Linked DNA regions of Homo sapiens: region 2 is linked to region 1. Evidence: fine-mapped expression QTL. Tissue or cell type: whole blood. Region 1 holds a variant in brackets; the other region holds the start of a gene. All regions are shown on one strand. Distances are from middle to middle.

Region 1 (10,643 bases):
TGAGGATGGAGCTCACTCTCTTCAGCTTCCGGCCCTCAACAGTGGCATCTGTAAAGGACCTCCCAGATAAGACTGTCTGGCTTCAGAGAGCGGATCAGCTGTTTAGCCCGTGGGGCAGTCCTTTGAGGCCTGGTAACCATTCCAGGTGATGTGGGTAGTGAGACCAAGTTCAGACCACTTAGAAAAATATAATTGCAAAGTCCCATTTCCTCTGTACCATTGTCACCCCACTCAACTTTGTATAAAGCCCACCCCCCATCATGTTGTTTTTTTAGTTTCATGTGTACGTCCCTTCAGAGAGGAAATTTTTTGCACAATGGAATCAGCTTGGCACCTTAGATACCTGTCTCCTATGGCTTGGAATTCTGAGTAAGAACTTGGAAGTTCCAAAAACCATTTTAGGAGCACCTGATTAACTTTCTGAATGATCCACCAGTAGGATCAGCACCCTGGAAACAAAGTACCTTATGAGATGGGATGGATATACTCCCCAGTAAGATCTTTCTGGATATAATGAAGCTTCCTGGAGAAACAGACTGGCAATCAGAAAGATTTGGCTGCTTCCGACACCTCCATCTTGGGCCTGCAGAGGCTGCAGCAATCTGTGAGGCAGCCGCAATCTGCGAGGCAGCCACTCTTCTAGCACATATGGCTTTCATTAGCCACCATTTTGCTAGGAAGCATAATTAAGGGTTTAAGCCTTAACCATGTTTGTGTTGGGTGTGTGTGTTTCTGGCCAGTTTGTCTTTCACAAATAAGACTATTAGTCATAGGGATTGTGAAAGTCTGATATAATCCCTGTGCTACCCAGCAACAAGTATTACATTAGGATATTTATGCTTGGTGTTTTCAGTATTAATAATATGAAATAATAGATAGACTGCCATGCAGCTGACCAAGGGCTTTCTTCCCCTGGGGAGTGGTTAGAAGGCCAAAGGTATTTCAGCCTGTAGGTGATAAAATTAGATTTCTTTACTTGCTGTGGTTAGACAGCAGTCAGTTAAAACAAGTAAAACTCCACTGTCCTGTCTGGGATCACCTAAATGAGGAATGTCACCAGCACTTCACAGCAAGAATATGCATTCTACAATGCTTTCTAAATTTGTGCTCCATCAGAGAAGCCCCACCATGTCCCACTAATGAAGCCCAGTTCTTTGGGAATGATGAATCCCTACTGTGCACATACAGCAATCATGGATCCTGCCTATCGAGGTGATTCACAATACACTTTCCCATTTCAAAAATGACGGGTATTTTAATTAGTCCACATTTCAGGTGTTAAATGTGGGAAAGGGATTAGCTAAACTTGCTCAATTCTGTTTTAGCTGAATGAGTCATAGGTACTGCTGGGCTGTCCTACAGTTCCTTCTGGCTTTCCCTCCGAGCAGGGTGGGAATGAGCAGTGACCTGGTCAAGGGACCCGGGCCACTTGATAGACCTCTCCTCCCACTCTTCTGCTAGCAGCTCAGAGAAGTCAAGGATGTTTTGTTGTTCTCATCATTTAGGGTGCTTGGCTGTTGGGTTCAGTGATCCTTACATCTAGCCCCAGCTAGTGGTGTTCTGGTAAATCGTTAACCACCAACTCTTTGAGCCTCCCGGGGTAATGAAAGTTACACCTCTAGTTAGCATGTTTATGAAATAGATCCCTTCTGCACGCGAAGACCTGCATGTAGGGCAGTATGGTGGAAATGGTCCTGAATACTGTTGACGGTCCACCTAGAAGGAACCCGCCCAGACCAAGTCTTAGCAGTTGGGTTCTTACTGACCACCTTCTTCCCTGGCTCTCCTCAGTGGAGGGAATGGAAGGCTGTGCCAGCTGTTTCAGAGCTTTCTCCTCTCTGCTCCCTTCTCTATAGATGCAGATGCCTTGGCTCTACCTGCCACTAATGATCTCATTGGGTATGACTTTAGATTTTTTTTTTTTTTTTTTTTTTTCTTTTGAGACAGTCTTGCTGTCACCCAGGCTGGAGTGCAGTGGCACGATCTTGTCACTGCAACGTCTGCCTCCTGGGTTCAAGCGATTCTCCTGCCGCAGTCTCTGGAGTAGCTGGGATTAAAGGCATGCACCACCACGCCTGGCTAATTTTTGTATTTTTGTAGAGATGGGGTTTCACCATGTTGGCCAGGCTGGTCTTGAACTCCCGACCTCAGGTGATCTGCCTGCCTCAGCCTCCCAAAGTGCTGGGATTACAGACATGCGCCACCATGCCTGGCCACTTTAGGCATTCTCTAAAAACCCAACTACAGTGATGCTAGATGTGTCCTGGGTCTTACACACAATTCTGCTACAATAGAGAGGTGGTGGCCACTGACACTTAGGGCCTTGCACCTGTGTCATGTCTAATTCTAAAATCATCCCAAAACGAGCCACATCAGTGCTGCCCAGTTTTTCTGTAATGCCAAATCTAGGCTAAAGATTTCCCACTCACCACCAGCACACACTAGCAGGTAGTAGTTGGACCAATGTGACTTGAGAGCGGACTGGTGCTTCACCTAATGCCAACTGAAACTTCAGCTCGCTGGCTCCACCCAGTGGTGGCGAATAAGCACAGCAACCTCATTAACAATGAGACAGATTTCTTGCCTCATTTGATGCTCAATCTTACTTACCTGAGATCAATACATTACATTAGCAGGGCCAAGGGACCGATGATCTCCAGCCTATGGCAATTAGAAGAGACGGAAAGGCAGTATTGATTAATGCTGTGGTGATCCCAGCCCTAATCTTTTAACCCTCAGGAAACCAGACAGACTCAGTGCCTTCATGGCACAACATCTTCATTAGATAAACTGGATTCCTTTCCTCAGGAGACCCAATTTGGTCCTCTAAGTAAAACGGCCATTTCATTTTCTCTCAGGTCAATTTCACTGTCTTTTATTTGACAGCTAGCGCAGTCTTTGGGGAAATTTGTGGGTGATTTGAGTAGTAACAGCAAGGACATCACTGTAATTATGATAGTGCCTTATATTTTTCTAGCACCTCTCCCAAGGACTTATGAAGACTTTTAGATTCTTCATCCCTTCACACAACATTGCTTCAAGGTAGGGCCAAGGCAGAAATTATCATCACTGTTTTACAAGGAAAGACACTCCTGTGCGGTCTCAAAGCAAATGCTTTTAAGAGCTAAAAATTCATTTCCTAGTTCTGTTCACCAAATGATGCCTTCTTTAAACATAAATACAAATTGTAATGTTAGCAGGTGCTATTTACAGAGAGAAACAAAGAGAATTTTACAATAGTCGCCAACACTGCAGCTGCCAAAAAATCCCTAGCTCAGAAATTTAAAGCAGCAATCCCATTTTCCCTACAGAAATGAAAACATATTGAACTTTCTTTTGTATTTAGCAGTAATCCAGCAAAATATAAGCTTTAATATAGCGACTGAGGAGTGGTAGTTTGAGCCATGAGGTACGGGGGAGCCAGAATCCACTTAGTGAGGACAGTGATGACCAGCAGGTGGCAGAAGTAAATTCCAAGCAGCCAAAAAACCAAAAACATTCGGAGAATTTTCCCCCCGTTCCTGAGGGACAGGATGGAGTTTGGACAGGAAGAACTGTAAGAAGCCAAGATCTGCGACAGTCCCAACAAATACAGTCTGGTCACATGGATACAGGAAGGACGATCTGGGGAGGCATACCAACAAGAAACGAAGCCAGGGACCTGAATGCAAAACTAGCCTCAGGTGACATGTTCTCCTGCACTTAGAAGCACTGGCAAAACCATGCCCACATAGAGGGGGCAGACACATGTCTGGGTTTCAGTTTCTGCAGACCTTCATCATTTGTTTTCCTTTTTGTTTTCTCTGTTGCCCAGGCTGGAGTGCAATGGCGCAATCTCGGCTCACTGCAACCTCCGCCTCCCAGCTTCAAGGGATTCTGCCTCAGCCTCCTGTGGAGCTGGGATTACAGGCGTGTGCCACCATGCCTGGATAATTTTTGCATTTTTAGTAGAGATGGGGTTTCACTAAGTTGGCCAGGCTGGTCTCAAACTCCTGACCTGAAGTGATCTGCCCACCTCGGTGTCCCAAAGTGCTGGGATTACAGGCGTGAGCAACCGCGCCCTTGCTTTCCTCTTAATCACTGTAGCTCTACCCCGTGGCTATTCCTAGGTAGGTGCCCCCTCCCCAGCCCAACCCCACCGGTTTCCTTGGAGGAAACCATCCATGGTCGATGGCTGCTGGGCCTTGACTCTCTGCCCAGCGCCTCTACTGCATGGATGGGGTTCCTGCCCTCGAAGCAGACATCTTCTTTTTCTGACTTTCCAAAAGCAGCGGAGAGGCAGGAGGTGCGTCGTGAGGTCTGGGTGCAGGACCTAGGAAGAAGAGGTTACAAGGAACCTGCGCCGGGAGCATGCGGTGCCCTCGGGACAGACCTAGCCCCAGGGCCCGTGGGTGTCCCTTCTTTCCAGTGGACATTCCCACCCTTTTCATACAGCCCATAGATAAATGAAGCAGCAGCAATTTTTATTGAGGGACCTAAACTGAAAATAGGTTTAGAACATAATTTAAAAAAATAAAACAGCAAAAGTAGCAAAAAATATATGACCTTTTTAAAAACATTTTCCTTTTTTTTCTTTTTTGTTTTTAATATATAGCAACTGATGCCTCCCAGCCACCAGGAGCATCTTACCCGATGGGTAAATCTCTGGTAACGACCCTTTTAAAAAGACATGTAAATATATACTCAGATTTATACACTTTGTGTTTTCTTCATAGCTATATACAGAGCCCCCAGTTTGGGGCTGGGCCCCAGGGCCACAACACTGCCCCCAACCTGGCCTTCGCCTCACCATCCTCTGGTACCAGGCATTTGGTCAGCAAAGCAAACTAGTATCGGAATTAATAAGCCACTGGCACCACCTATCTGGGGCAGAGGTCACCTTCAATCGAGGCACGAAGCACTGACCTCCCTACTGCTGTAGCCCTGAGGACAAGGCACCTGCCACCAGAGTGCGAGGGGCTTATGGGTGAAGGCAAAACAGACCAAACCGACAGGAGAAAGCTCAGGAAGCTCTCACTTGCATGCCTGTTCATTGGCTCCCACTCCCTGCCCTCCAGGCAGTGCCTGGTGGCAGGGAGGGGTGTTGGTCCAACATCTGGGAGGGGATGAAGTGGCTGGCAGCAAAGATCTGCCTCTTTGCACCTCTCACCAGCAGGTGGAGAGGAGGTGGAGGGAGAGGTGAGCTGAGTGGGGTGAAGGCAGGCCACACAGGAAGGCCCCTGGTAGGCAGCCGGCTCCTGCCAGCAGGAAAGGGGACAGGGACGGACAGGTGGTGGGCCCAGCAGGGGCTGTGGGTGAGGGTTACAGCTGACGGTGGAGTCTGGGGAGGGCGTGTGGGTGGCAGTCAGCGGCGTTTGAGTCCGCCATTGGCAAGCTGGGCTGGGTGTCGGGGCAGGCAGGGCTCCTCGGGCAGCGGCTCATGAGAGAAGACGGAATCCTCCCCTGAGGAGCACGTAGAGCTCCGGGTGTCGGGAAAGCTGGGGGAGTACTGGTCCAGGG[G/A]CATGGACAGGTCCAGGTACTCCTGTGATGGGCGAGAGGAAGCAGCGATGGGCCGGGCCCCTCCTCCCTGCTCAGGGAGGTGCGTGCACGCAGTGGGGACGGCCTGAGCTCTGGCTCTGGCACGGGCAGCCTTACCTGGTTGGAGGTCAAGGCCACGATGCGGTCCAGGTCTTCCACCAGCTGCTTGAAGGTGGGTCTCTGTGAGGGCACTGCATGCCAGCAGTCCCGCATCATCATGTACCTGCGGCAGGACTGTAAGGTCAGGGACGTCTCCTGGAGATGGATACTCTCTAGTCTAGCCCCCTGCCCCTCAAGCCCACTCTTGCCCCAAGGCCTGGCTCAGGGCCTCCGACATCTCCTCGGGCTTACAGCTCGTTGGTGCAGTTACTGGGCTTGTCCATGCGGTGACCCTCCTTCAGCAGCTTGAAAAGTTCCTCCACAGGCACACCGGGGTATGGGGAGCCGCCCAGAGTGAAGATCTCCCACAGGAGCACCCCGAAAGACCACCTGCAAATGGGCGGAGAGCCACAGGGTGTTAGAGCTTCTCCGCCTCCCCTCCCCCAGCACAAATCCTCTACCCAGGGCAGTGCCAGGAGACAGCATGGAGAACAGATCAGCCTTTCAACATCTGGAGCAGAGGGAATGGCCACAGACAATGTTTTGTTTTTCTCTCTGGGGCAGAAAGAGGACTCCTCAGTCCAGGGAGAAAGCAGGACTCTACAGTGCTAGAAGCTCTCTATCCCACACCTCCCTGGCAATTGCTATTACAAACTCACACATCACTCTGGTGGGTGTAGATCCGGTCAAATAATGCCTCGGGTGCCATCCACTTCACAGGCAGTCGGCCCTGAAAGCAGCACAGGGGAGGTTGGAGTGGCCCCAGGCAGGGCCATGAGGGCACAGGTGGGAAGGGACTGGGGGGTGGGTTCTCAGCCCACCCCACTCCTTGCTTCTCAGATGAAACCACCAGCACAGGGCGGCCTTGTCGGCACTCACGTTGGTTGTCTTTTTATAGTAGTCGATGTGGTGAATGTCCCGTGCGAGGCCAAAGTCTGCTATCTTCATCACATTGTCCTCTGTCACCAGGACATTCCTGGCTGCCAGGTCTCGGTGTATGCACTGAGGAAGGAGGAAGGGAGAGCGGGAGGCGGGGAGGTGAGGGAGCTGGAAGGCTCTGGGCGGCCGCCACCCATGCAACTAGCCGACTTGTCTCATAGAACTTCTGCCACACTGCTCTGCCCCCCGAACCTTTGCTTTCCCTCTTCTAACATTCTCTGCCAGCTCCAGGCTTCTCATCACAGCAAGCGCTCCTCCCTTCCTTCCCCAAAGACTGGCCCCTTATGCCTCTGCTGCGTCTGCAGCGATGCATGCTCCTAGGTCCTGCCTCCCAGCACAGCAAGTCCACATGGGGCTGGGCTCAAACCAGGCCAGCCCTTACACACCAAACACTGCACTCAACACTCACAGACAGTTTCATTTTATCTTCATAACAATTCTACAACAGGTATTGTTATACTTTATTTTCTTTTGAGACAGGGCCTTGCTCTGTCGCCCCGGCTGGGGTGCAGTGGTGTGATCATGGCTCAGTGCAGCCTCAAACTCTTGGGCTCAAGCTAGCCTCCCACCTCAGCCTCCCGAGTAGCTGGGACTATCGGCACGCACTACCACACCCAGCTAATTTTTTAATTTTTTTTTTTTTTTTAAAGACGGGGTTTCAATATATTGCCCAACCTGGTCTCACACTCCTGAGCTCAAGCAATCCTCCCGCCTTGGCCACTGCACCCAGCTGATATTATTATTATTTTGTATTTGAAGAATTTTAAGATGCTAAGTAGCTGCCTGAGGCTACGCAGAAAGTGGCAGTGCACAGATCGGACCCTGCATCAGTCTGACCCCAAGGCCACCTGGCTACACTGGTGCTCCTGACTCTGCAGTTCCCAGAGAGCCTAAGACAACACACAGGGCACACAGGGCCAGTGCTCAGTGCATCCACAACGCCACCACAAGATGATAAGTCACAGGCTGGAAGACTAGGGGGGCTCTGTTCCCACCCTGGCATTACCCAGGGGAGCCTTCAGGTTCCACACCTTCTTGGAGGCCAGATACTCCATGCCTCGGGCCACCTGGTAGGCGCAGGACACCAGGTCCTTGGAGGAGAGCTGCTCCTCTGGGTTGTGGCTGGGGTTGTAGCAGTATTCCAGCCCTGGGGGCCTCCGGGCCTGCAGGTACTCCCGCAGGTTGCCCTTGGAGGCATACTCCACGATGACATACAAGGGACCTGCAGGCACAGGAGAAGAGGCCATGGGGCCAGCAGCAGGTGAGCAGGTTTGGCTTCACCTCAAAGAAACCCCACCCCCAGCAGCACACCCCGGCCAACCTCCCATCTCCTGCCTCCTCTTAGGGGACCTGGGAAATCCATTCTACTACCCAAAAAAAATCAGAGAAATAATTACTCCCAGCATAGTCCAGAAAATTCCCGAGCAACATTGGGGTAAGAGCCCCAGTTTGTCTGTTTATTTTGAGATGGAGTCTCACTCTGTTGCCCAGGCTGGAGTGCAGTGGCGCAATTTCGGCTCACTGCAACCTCTGCCTTCTGGATTCAAGTGATTCTCCTGCCTCAGCCTCCCAAGCAGCTGGGATTACAGGCATGAACAATGCCTGGCTAATTTTTTTTTTTTTTTTTTTTTTTTTTGAGATGGAGTTTTGCTCGTTGCCCAAGCTGGAGTGCAATGGCGCGATCTCGGCTAACCGCAACCTCCGCCTCCCGTGTTCAAACGATTCTCCTGCCACAGCCTCCCGAGTAGCTGGAATTACAGGCATGCGCCACCACGCCCGGCTACTTTTTGTATTTTTAGTAGAGATGGGGTTTCACCTGTTGGCCAGGCTGGTCTCCAACTCCTGACCTCAAGTGATCCACCCGCCTCACCCTCCCAAGGTGCTGGGATTACAGGCGTGAGCCACTGTGCCTGGCCTATTTATTTATTTTATTTTTGAGACAGCGGGAGTATCTCCCAAGCTGGAGTACAATGGCGTGATCTTGGCTCACTGCAACCTCCACCTCCCGGGTTCAAGCAAGTCTTATGCGTCAGCCTCCTGAGTAGCTGGGATTATAGGCATGCGTGACCATGCCTGGCTAACTTTTGTATTTTTTAGTAGAGATGGGGTTTCACCATTTTGACCAGACTGGTCTCGAACTCCTGATCTCAAGTGATCTTCCTGCCTCGGCCTCCCAAATTGCTGGGATTACAGGCATGAGCCACTGCACCCAGCCTGAGCGCTCTTAGACCATAATTACTCAGCTGCCTCTGTTAACACACCACGTGTGTGAATCTAGGTATCTGTATTCCTGAATGAACACCAATGAGCGGAGCCCAGATCCCGAGATAACACATTTTAAACCTCTGCCAAAGCAGCCTCTCTTAACCCCCTTCCCTAGCTGTGGCTGAGAGAGGCCTTGGGACTGATACCCCAGCTCAGATCTTCTCCCCGCTGGGCAGGGAAAGCCAGTCTGGCCGGCACCCACCATCCTGCGTGCAGGCCCCCAGCAGGTTGATGATATTCTTATGCTTCCCGATCATCTTCATCATCTCCATTTCTGAGATCAGGTCTGACAAGTCTTTCTCTGTTGCGTCCGCTTTAAAGAACACGTTGAGACTCATTTACTTGGGAAGGGAGGAGGGCAGGATAAAGGCTAAGGGAGTGGGGTATGTGTCGAGGGGCTGCTTTTCCCTGGGACTTGATTCTCTCCTCCCCACTTCATCCAAACTTGTTTTCTCTTCCCTCTCATGGGAGCCGTTGTTGCAATAGGTGGTAGTGAGTGGGCAGGGATGTGGTGAGGAAAGCCTGCAAGCGATGGATCCAGGATAAACACCTGACCACAGCCCAGGTTGACGCCAAGGAACAGAGTGACGTCATAGAACAATCTCAAGGTGCAGAACACCCCCTCCACTCCCAGGTAACCCCAAGCAGGCAGCGGAGCAGGTGTGGGCAGCAAAGGCACCAGAGAAGCTGTTCTGCTGGGCCCGAGGCCTGCTGTTTGCTTGGAATGGGACAAGATTTTCTTTGCAAGGACAGAAGCATCACTTACACTTCAACATCTTCACAGCCACTTTGGTCACACGGTTGGGTTTGTCCTTGTCCAGCCCGATAGCCTCTGCCAACACCACCTGCCCAAAGCAGCCCTCTCCCAGGGGTTTGCCTAAGACCAGTCTTTCGGGGGAAACAGAGAGTGGCATAAGTTGGGGCTGGTGAAGTTCAAACCTTGAGAGGCACCCCATCTCCACCTCTCTGTATTTCACCCAACTGCGAGCAGAAAGTGGAATGAATGTTTCTGCAGGCATTTCATGAACCTTCACCGCCCAGAAGGTGTTAGTATACACACCTTCCACCACTAGAATAGCAAGCAAGGAATGCCTTCAAAAAGTTGGGAGTCAAAGTATTATTACCTGTCCCGAGGCAGCTCCCAGCGAGGGTCTTCGGGAAGCTCATACTCAGAGACCCCTGCTAGCATGGGAGTCCCACTGGAGGAGAGCCGTGATGGCCGAACCAGAAGAACCCCAGAGTTCATGGATGCACTGGAGTCAGCAGACACCTGCAAGGAAGAGTGGGGTCACCCTAGAGCAAGGAGGGGGGACGGGGTGACTCCTTCCCATTCTTAGTCAGGGCTTCCCAACAATGGCAGAGGCACATGTCTGTGTATCTGATGTTCTTTCCTCAACACAGAGTGGTCCAAAGACCATGGTAGGCCAGGAGGCCCAACTTCTAGGACTGACCTATTTCTGCCACAAGCTGGCCTTTCTGGACTTCACTCACCTTTAAAATAAGCAGACCAAATGCACCTCTTCCAGCTTGACATTTTATAACTGATCATTGCAGTAACAACTCTGTTCTCCTGACTCTTTGCAAATACTTTGCCTTAGCTTATGGATTCCTAACTCCCAAAGCACCTTCCAGAATGAGCACAGGCTTCTGAGGGAACGGTCATTCTTGCACACACCTGTGCCATCTGTACCATTTCCTCCCGTGGGGAAGGGTGGGCACACAGGGGACAAGGGTATGGTATGGCTGAGATGGTTTGGCTGTGTCCCCACCCAAATCTCATCTTGAATTCCCACGTGTTATGGGAGGGACCTGGTAGGAGGTCA
Region 2 (7,821 bases), 26 kb before region 1:
TCCTGGCTAAGACGGTGAAACCCCGTCTCTACTAAAAATACAAAAAATTAGCCGGGCGTGGTGGGGGGCGCCTGTAGTCCCAGCTACTCAGGAGGCTGAGGCAGGAGAATGGCGTGAACCCGGGAAGCGGAGCTTGCAGTGAGCCGAGATCGCGCCACTGCACTCCAGCCTGGGCGACACAGAGAGGCTATGTCTCAAAAAAAAAAAAAAAAATCTCATTACTATTAATCATTAAATATTTTTAAACGTATGCTTTAAGTAGTACCACAAGTTACAGCTATCAGTAAAAGCATACTTTTTATTTGTGATATGACATTTTAAAACACAGATGGCCAAAGCGGGCCACCAAGTCTAGCTTAATTCTATCTCCAGGAAAGAGGGATTAAATTGGTCTTTTTTTTTTTTCTATGAGCCTTTCTACCTCCATTCTTCTTTTTCTTCCTCCTGTGTCTTCCTTGCTTTGTTGATAAACTGTTGCCTTGACCCGGCACCTGGGTTTCTCCCTTGAGGAGAATCTAGTAAATTGTCCCCAGGGATCTTATATTAGCCTGTTTCTAATAGCTATGCTGACAGCAAGAGTTTAAAATTGGAGTTATGTGAAGTAGATGCATAGTCTTTTCCTGCAAAACATTACAAAATACAGTTAGTATACTTGATCTGGTGGCATATTTAGGAAAATGGCCATTAAAAATAATAGTTTACATTTTCAGTATCTAACATCTTCTGAGGTTTAGACGATGCTTACTGTTCGCCATAGAAAATGAACAAGGAGCTCATTAAGACAGCAATCTAACACAATTCTCAGGGCCAGAGTCATGGAGGAAAAAATATTTTTTTAAAAATTTCTCTTCTGAAGATTACATACAGAATCTTACATGATAAATCTCTTATCCTGAAAGTCAAAGAAATTGCCAAGTCTCATAACTAGGGAAGACGGACATTACTTTGAACAGATATCTCAATAAGAAGAGTTCTTAGCCCTTCCCTTTTTAGGATAGGATTGCTGACATATGGCCATGGTAGAAAACCTAGCTCATCTTTCAAATACTGGGCATGGAATCGTTCATCTGGTTTATGAATACTTAATGATATTCACTGTGCCTGGTTGTAAGTGAATACAATGCATGAATAAGAATATTTCCCCGTATAAAATGTCTCCCAGGGAACTGAAAATATTTTTGCATCCTTTAAGATCTTTTCCAGAAAAGTACCAGTACATGGTAGTGCAATGATTAATTTATGAAATTAGTGTGAAAACTACATCTACCTTCTAGAGCTCAAAATTTGACCACCAGGAATTTTCAGTGAGGGAAAAGTAAAGAGTCCAAAGCTTTGTAGATTTTAATACTGGTAAACAGAACGTGAAGTGAAACCTTTATGTGCAAAGTTGAACATCAGACATGCACAAAGAGACCTCTAGTGGCCAAACTGAAAAGTTTTGCCTATTTAACAGTGGATCTATTTGGTTATTAGCTGAAAAATCCTTTGTGGATTAAAAGCAGTCTGCATTTTTTACTGACGTTTAATACCGCCATCTTCCATTCTTAAAAATGTGTAGCCCAGATGAGTAAAGTCTGTGGTCAGCTCACATGTCAGGAGACGTATTCTCCGTGAGAAAGCGATTCCTTGCTGTATGGTGGTCGAGTAGAGCCACTAAGAAAAAAAAAATTTTTTTTTGAGGTGGAATCTCGCTCTTGTCGCCCAGGCTGGAGTGCAGTGGCGCGATCTCGACTCACTGCAACCCCTGCCTCCCGGGTTCAAGCGATTCTCCTGCCTCAGCCTCCAGAGTAGCCGGAACTACAGGCGCACGCCACCATGCCCGGCTAATTTTTGTATTTTTTTTTAGTAGAGACAGGGTTTCACCATGTTGGCCAAGATGTTTTCTGTCTCCTGACCTTGTGATCCGCCCGCCTCGGCCTCCCAAAGTGCTGGGATCACAGGCGTGAGCCACCGCGCCCAGCCTAAATAAAAAAAATTTTTAACTCTTTCTTCTGGAGCCAGATAAAATGGATGGGAAAAGATAACTGGGGAATGAGAATATTTCTAGATGTTTCATTTTCCCAAGATGGCTCAGTTGGCCATCCTAGGAACTGAAGTGCCCTCAAACCTGCAGTGTCTGTCATTTCACAGCTACTATAACATACATTTTATATGCTGAGATTTCTATACAAATTATTAATCACAAACAACACTTGTTAAGGGACCATTGAGAAAGCAAATATTTTTAGTAGAATACAGATTTCCATATGAAGATTTCACAGTATTCCAGCCTCTGGAGAGGAAGGGAGAGGAATGCGCTCCTTCCGATTCCCGCCCTTTCTGCGACACCATCAAATCCTCTCAGCGCCCCTCTGGCAGTTCCGGATTTGCAGGGTCCGAGGGAGAATACATCAAAGTGATGTCATTCATGACTCCGAAATGGTTACCATGGCGACTATCAGACATATTAAGCTGTCAGGGAAAGAGCCTGTTTAATCCAGTCTTCAATCACGGGTTTCCTCGGGCGTTAGCCACTGCCTGCGGAGTGTGGACTGGCAGAAAAACGTCACCTTCGGGCCCCCCAGCACCAACGCGCCTTAAACCAAGCCCCACAAAGAAGTCACTTCGGCGATGTAAACGCGACTTTGCGGCTTCCTGGGCTGCTAAGGTGAAGGACGCCCGCCCTCCCCAGAACTTGAGAGCTTATTGGTTGGCGATGTCGTCACTCAGAGTGACGTCAGGGGCGAGGAAAGAGGCGGAACCGTAGAGACTTGGCTTCGGGCCCTTCTAGCTTGGGGGTCCCGGGAAGGAGCTGGGAGGACCTAGGCGGCCGTTCCGCGGAGCCCGGCCGAGGAGGTAGGGGTGGGCAGGCCCAGCCCTCAGGCCGCGACCTGGTGGGCCGCGCTGCCTTTTTTTCCTCCGGATCCCGCTCGGTCCGCATCCTGCTCCTCTCATCAGAGCATGATCCAGGCTTCTGACAGCTTCCAGTTCCCACCGCGCTCTCCTCCACCCACGACCTCATCCCCGCCAGTTCCCCAGCACAGCGCGAACTCTGAAGCTCGGCCTCTCCTCCCCCTTCCCCGCACAGCGCGCTCCGTCCTTTTTTCCGTCCCAGGCCCTGCTTCTTTCTCCTCGGCTTCATTTCCAACAACCCCGATCATCCACGAGGGTCGTCGTTCCCGTGCCTGTCCCACCTCCGCACCAGAAAACCAAAGCATATCCCCCAGACCCCGCCGCATGCAGGCCGCGCACACATCAGGCGCGCCGAAGCCGCCGGGCGAGGAAGCCGAGGGCGCGTTTTGCTCCCGTGTGGTGATGGGCAAAGCCGAGGGAGCCCGGGAGCAGCGGGCGTGGGGCGGCGCCAATGCGAGTGCGAGTGGTGTCCGCCGCCCGGGAGCGCCCGGGCCCGAGCGGATTAACCGCCGCCTCAGGTGTCGTCTCCTGCCCGCGAAACACCACCCACCGTTAGTGTGGGTCCACAGGTTTCGAGCCCCTGTTGAAAATGTCAGCTCTGTGGCTAAGGTTTCTATTCAGGAGAGCTCCTGGAACTCTTTTCCCAACCACAAGAGAGCAAAGCTGCCATTGGGAATGTCAGCTCTTCTGCCGTTCCTCGCGGCCCTTAGCAGAAAAGCGCCCCTGGATGGAGATGGGTTTTGGTGAAGGTTATTTACAGGTTCAAAGCTCAGTTTGGGCTCTGGAGAATCAGTAGCAAGGGAAACAGTTTTACCTCCACTTGAGCGATTAGTAGGTTGCATGTCTACCTTCATCCACTGCTACATAAATTAGATTAGTGGGTACGTCCAATATTCAGGGTTTGGGACAACTTGCCTAAATATAGAACAATGCTAACTGAAAAGAAATTCAGAATATTCACTTTCTACCTATATTTTAAGGCTACAGATAGATATGTATTGCTCTACTTTTAAGTACTTGGCAATCATTGAAGTTGCATTACTAGATACTATTGACCAGAAATCAAAATGTCTCTGAAGATTGTACCATCTTCATGAGCATCATCATCTTAGAGATCATTACCGTTTGTTGGAATCTCAAAGTACCATTCTCAAGTCCAGAGCTACGAAAATATCTGATTGTTGGAAATGAGCTTGAAGGAGGTTTTGTACCTTAACTATGCAAATGTTCTACCTTTGCAATAGTTAAAAACACTAAAATCCTGATGTCTTTTAATTGATGTATTTTTAAACTACTAAATTGTTTACTTACTCCTTTTGCCTAGGTCCCTATGTTAACTACTTGAGACAAAAATAAATATGGCCTTCTACAGTTATAATTCAGTTCTGGCTATTGCTCGAACAAGGTAAGCATTGGAGTTACCCCCCAATATGAACGTAATTCTTCTTCTTCTTCTTTTTTTTTTTTTTTTCTGAGATGGAGTCGCACTCTGTCGCCCAGGCTGGAGTTCAATGGTGCAATCTCGGCTCACTGCAACCTCTGCCTCCCGGGTTCAAGCTACTCTCCTCCCTCAGCCTCCAAGTAACTGGGATTACAGGTGTTTGCCACCACCTCCGGCTAATCTTTGTATTTTCAGTAGAGACGAGGTTTCACCATGTTGGCCAGGCTGCTCTGGAACTCCTGACCTTAGGTGATCCGCCTGCCTTGGGCTCCCAAAGTGCTGGGATTACAGGCGTGAGTCACCTCGCCTGGCCTGAATTTCATCCTTCTAGATGGAAAGGATTGGCTTAGTACACAATTAAAAGTTTCTTGGAGGCTGGGTGCAGTGGCTCACACCTGTAATCCCAGCACTTTGGGAGGCCAAGGCGAGCGGATTGCCTGAGGTCAGGAGTTCAAGACCAGCCTGACCAACATGGTGAAACCCCGTCTCTACTAAAACTGCAAAAATTAGCCGGCATGGTGGCAGGTACCTATAATCCCAGCACTTGTGAGGCTGAGACAGGAGAATCGCTTGAACCTGGGAGGCGGAGGTTGCAGTGGGCCAAGACTGGGCCACTGCACTCCAGCTTGGGCAACAAGAGTAAAAATCCATCTCAAAAAAAAAAAAGAAAAGAAGATGTAGTTTTTTTTGTTTGTTTGTTTTTGTTTTCTTTTTTGGGACGGATTATCACTCTGTTGCCCAGGCTGGAGTGCAGTGGCATGATATCTTGGCTCACTGCAACCTCCAACTCCCAGGTTCAAGAGATTTTCCTGCCTCAGCCTCACAAGTAGCTGGGATTACAGGCATGCGCCGCCATGTCCCACTAATTTTTGTATTTTTAGTACAGATGGGGTTTCGCCATGTTGGCCAGGCTGGTCTTGAACTCCTGACCTCAGGTAATCCGCCAGCCTGGGCTTCCCAAAGTGCTGGGATTAAAGGCGTGAGCCACTGTGCCCAGCCAGAAGATGTACTGGTTTTAGAGTGACATCTCTGTAATTGATGAACATCACGTGAGGTCCTTAGATGTAAAGCGAGTAAAATGGCTGATGAACAGCCAGTCTTAGGGCATATTCGTGTCCCATTAGGGTCTGTTACCATTATTTATTTATTTATTTATTTATTTATTTTTGAGATGAAATCTCGCTCTATTGCCCAAGCTGGAGTGCAATGGCACAATCTTGGCTCATTGCAACCTCTGCCTCCTGGGTTCAAGTGAGTCTCCTGTCTCAGCCTCCCGAGTAGCTGGGATTACAGGCATGGGCCACCATGCCCAGCTAATTTTTTTGTATTTTTATAGAGATGGTGTTTCTCCATGTTGGCCAGGCTGATCTTGAACTCCTGACCTCAAGTGATCCACCCACCTCAGCCTCCCAAACTGCTGGGATTACAGGCGTGAGCCACCGTGCCCGGCCACCATTTATTTATTCACTGAGACTAAAGACTATTCACTGAGCACTTACTTTTCCCTTTTTGGCCATTCAAAGAGCGTTTTATCTTGGCATGCTTCAAAAATAGTCTGAGGCTGGCTGCAGTGGCTCACACCTATAATCTCAGTACTTTTGGAAGCCTAGACAGGAAGATAGCTCGAGCCCAGGAGTTCAAGAACAGCCTGGGGCCAGGCACTGTGGCTCACGCCTGTAATCCCAACACTTTGGGAGGCCGAGGCGGGTGGACCACAAGGTCAAGAGATCGAGACCATCCTGGCCAATGTGGTGAAACCCCGTCTCTACTAAAAATACAAAAATTAGCTGGACGTGGTGGCATGCAGCTGTAGTCCCAGCTACTCAGGAGGCTAAAGCAGGAGAATCGCTTGAACCTGGGAGGTGGAGGTTGCAGTGAGCCGAGATCACACCACTGCACTCCAGTCTGGGCAACAGAGTGAGACTCCGTCTCAAAAAAAAAAAAAAAAAAAAAAGAACAGCCTGGATAACATAGCAAGACCTCATCTCTACAAAAATTTTTAAAACTAGCTGGGCGTGGTGGTGCGGGCCTGTAGTCCTAGCTACTCAGGATGCTGAGCCTGGGAGGTCGAGGCTGCAGTGAGCTGTGATCACACCACTCTACTCCAGCCTCGGTTTTTAACACCTTAAGAACCAAGCCAGGCATGGTGCATATGCCTGTAATCTCAGCTCCTTGGGAGGCCGAGGTAGGAAGATTGCTTTAGCCCAGGGGTTTGAGGCCAGCCTGGGCAACATAGCAAGACTCTGTGTCTTAAACAGAAAGAGAAAAAAAAGAGCCGGGTGTGATGGCTCACACCTGTAATCCCAGCACTTTGGGAGGCCAAGGCAGGCAGATCACTTGAGGTCAGCAGTTCGAGACCAGTCTTGCCAACATGGTGAAACCCCGTCTCTACTAAAAATATAAAGATTAGCCAGGTGTGGTGGCAGGCACCTGTATTCCCAGATACTCGGGAGGCTGAGGCAGGAGAATCATTTGAACCCAGGAGGCGGAGGTTGCAGTGAGTCAAGATCGCGTCACTGCACTCCAGCCTGGGCAACAGAGTGAGACTCTGTCTCAGAAAAAAAAAAAAAAAAAAAAAGAACCAAGACAAATTTTTTATTTTTGTTTTTTTGTTTTTTGTTTTTTGTTTTTTTGTGAGACAGAGTCTTGCTCTGTCACCAGGCTGGAGTGCAGTGGCGCAATCTTGGCTCACTGCAGCCTCCGCCTCCTGGGTTCAAGCAATTCTCCTGCCTCAGCCTCCCGAGTAGCTGGGACTACAGGTGCACTCCACCACGCCCAGCTAATTTTTGTATTTTTGGTAGAGATGGGGTTTCACCATGTTGGCCAGGATGGTCTAGATCTCTTGACCTCGTGATCCACCTTCCTCAGCCTCCCAAAGTGCTGGGATTACAGGCATGAGCCAGCGTGCCTGGCGACAAATTTTTTTTGCTTTTGTTTTTGGTTTTGTTTTTGGCATGTTCTAAAATAATGAATATTGCATATGCATTTAATTCTATAGCTGTTGAGAACTTGTGTTGATTTCTTCCACATGAGCCTAGGAGGTCATGGCTGCAGTGAGCCGTGATCATGCCACTGTACTCCAGCCTGGGTGACAGAGTGAGACTCCTCCTGTCTCAAAAAAAAAAAAAAAAACAAAAAAAAAAACCAAAAAACTGAAAGAATGGAAAAAGACATCTCTTTGCCAGTAACTTTCTTTGCCAGTATCTGTCATATTTTTATTTTATTTTATTTTAGTTTTTTTTTTTTTTTTTTTTTTTAGACAAGTCTCGCTTTGTCGCCAGGCTGGAGTGCAGTGGCACGATCTTGGCTTATTGCAACCTCTGCCTCCCAGGTTCAAGTGATTCTCCTGCCTCAGCCTCCCGAGTAGCTGGGACTACAGGCACGTGCCACCACGCCCAGCTAATTTTTGTATTTTTAGTAGAGATGGGGTTTCACCAAGTTGGCCAGGATGGTCTCGATCTCTTGATCCGCCCGCCTTGGCCTCCCAA

The links. PIP is the estimated chance that this variant, and not a neighbour inherited with it, causes the effect.
Region 2: it holds the start of LETM2, and the variant in region 1 is fine-mapped to the expression of LETM2 in whole blood (TOPMed, PIP above 0.99).

What each region holds. Positions count from the first base shown.
Region 1 is chr8:38,408,284-38,418,926 of GRCh38, forward strand. FGFR1 (fibroblast growth factor receptor 1) reads right to left here. Exons shown (of 18, transcript NM_023110.3): 10 at 9,945-10,090; 11 at 9,587-9,708; 12 at 9,023-9,133; 13 at 7,587-7,777; 14 at 6,496-6,618; 15 at 6,276-6,346; 16 at 5,869-6,006; 17 at 5,635-5,740; 18 at 2,860-5,521. The coding sequence ends at 5,345. LOC102723716 (a long non-coding RNA gene) reads right to left here and starts at 4,728. Exons shown (of 4, transcript NR_188043.1): 1 at 2,611-4,728. It overlaps LETM2 (leucine zipper and EF-hand containing transmembrane protein 2), which reads left to right. Exons shown (of 11, transcript NM_001286819.2): 11 at 1-1,244. RefSeq lists a silencer at 1,468-1,517 and enhancers at 4,130-4,802, 4,803-5,476, 7,095-7,865, 8,306-8,971, 9,880-10,643. The variant G/A (reference allele first, on the strand shown) is at 5,500.
Region 2 is chr8:38,383,734-38,391,554 of GRCh38, forward strand. LETM2 (leucine zipper and EF-hand containing transmembrane protein 2) reads left to right here and starts at 2,743. Exons shown (of 11, transcript NM_001286819.2): 1 at 2,743-2,835; 2 at 4,217-4,297. The coding sequence starts at 4,251. RefSeq lists enhancers at 1,387-2,017, 2,018-2,647, 2,340-2,579, 2,600-2,679, 2,801-3,302 and 2 more and silencers at 3,230-3,369, 3,410-3,459.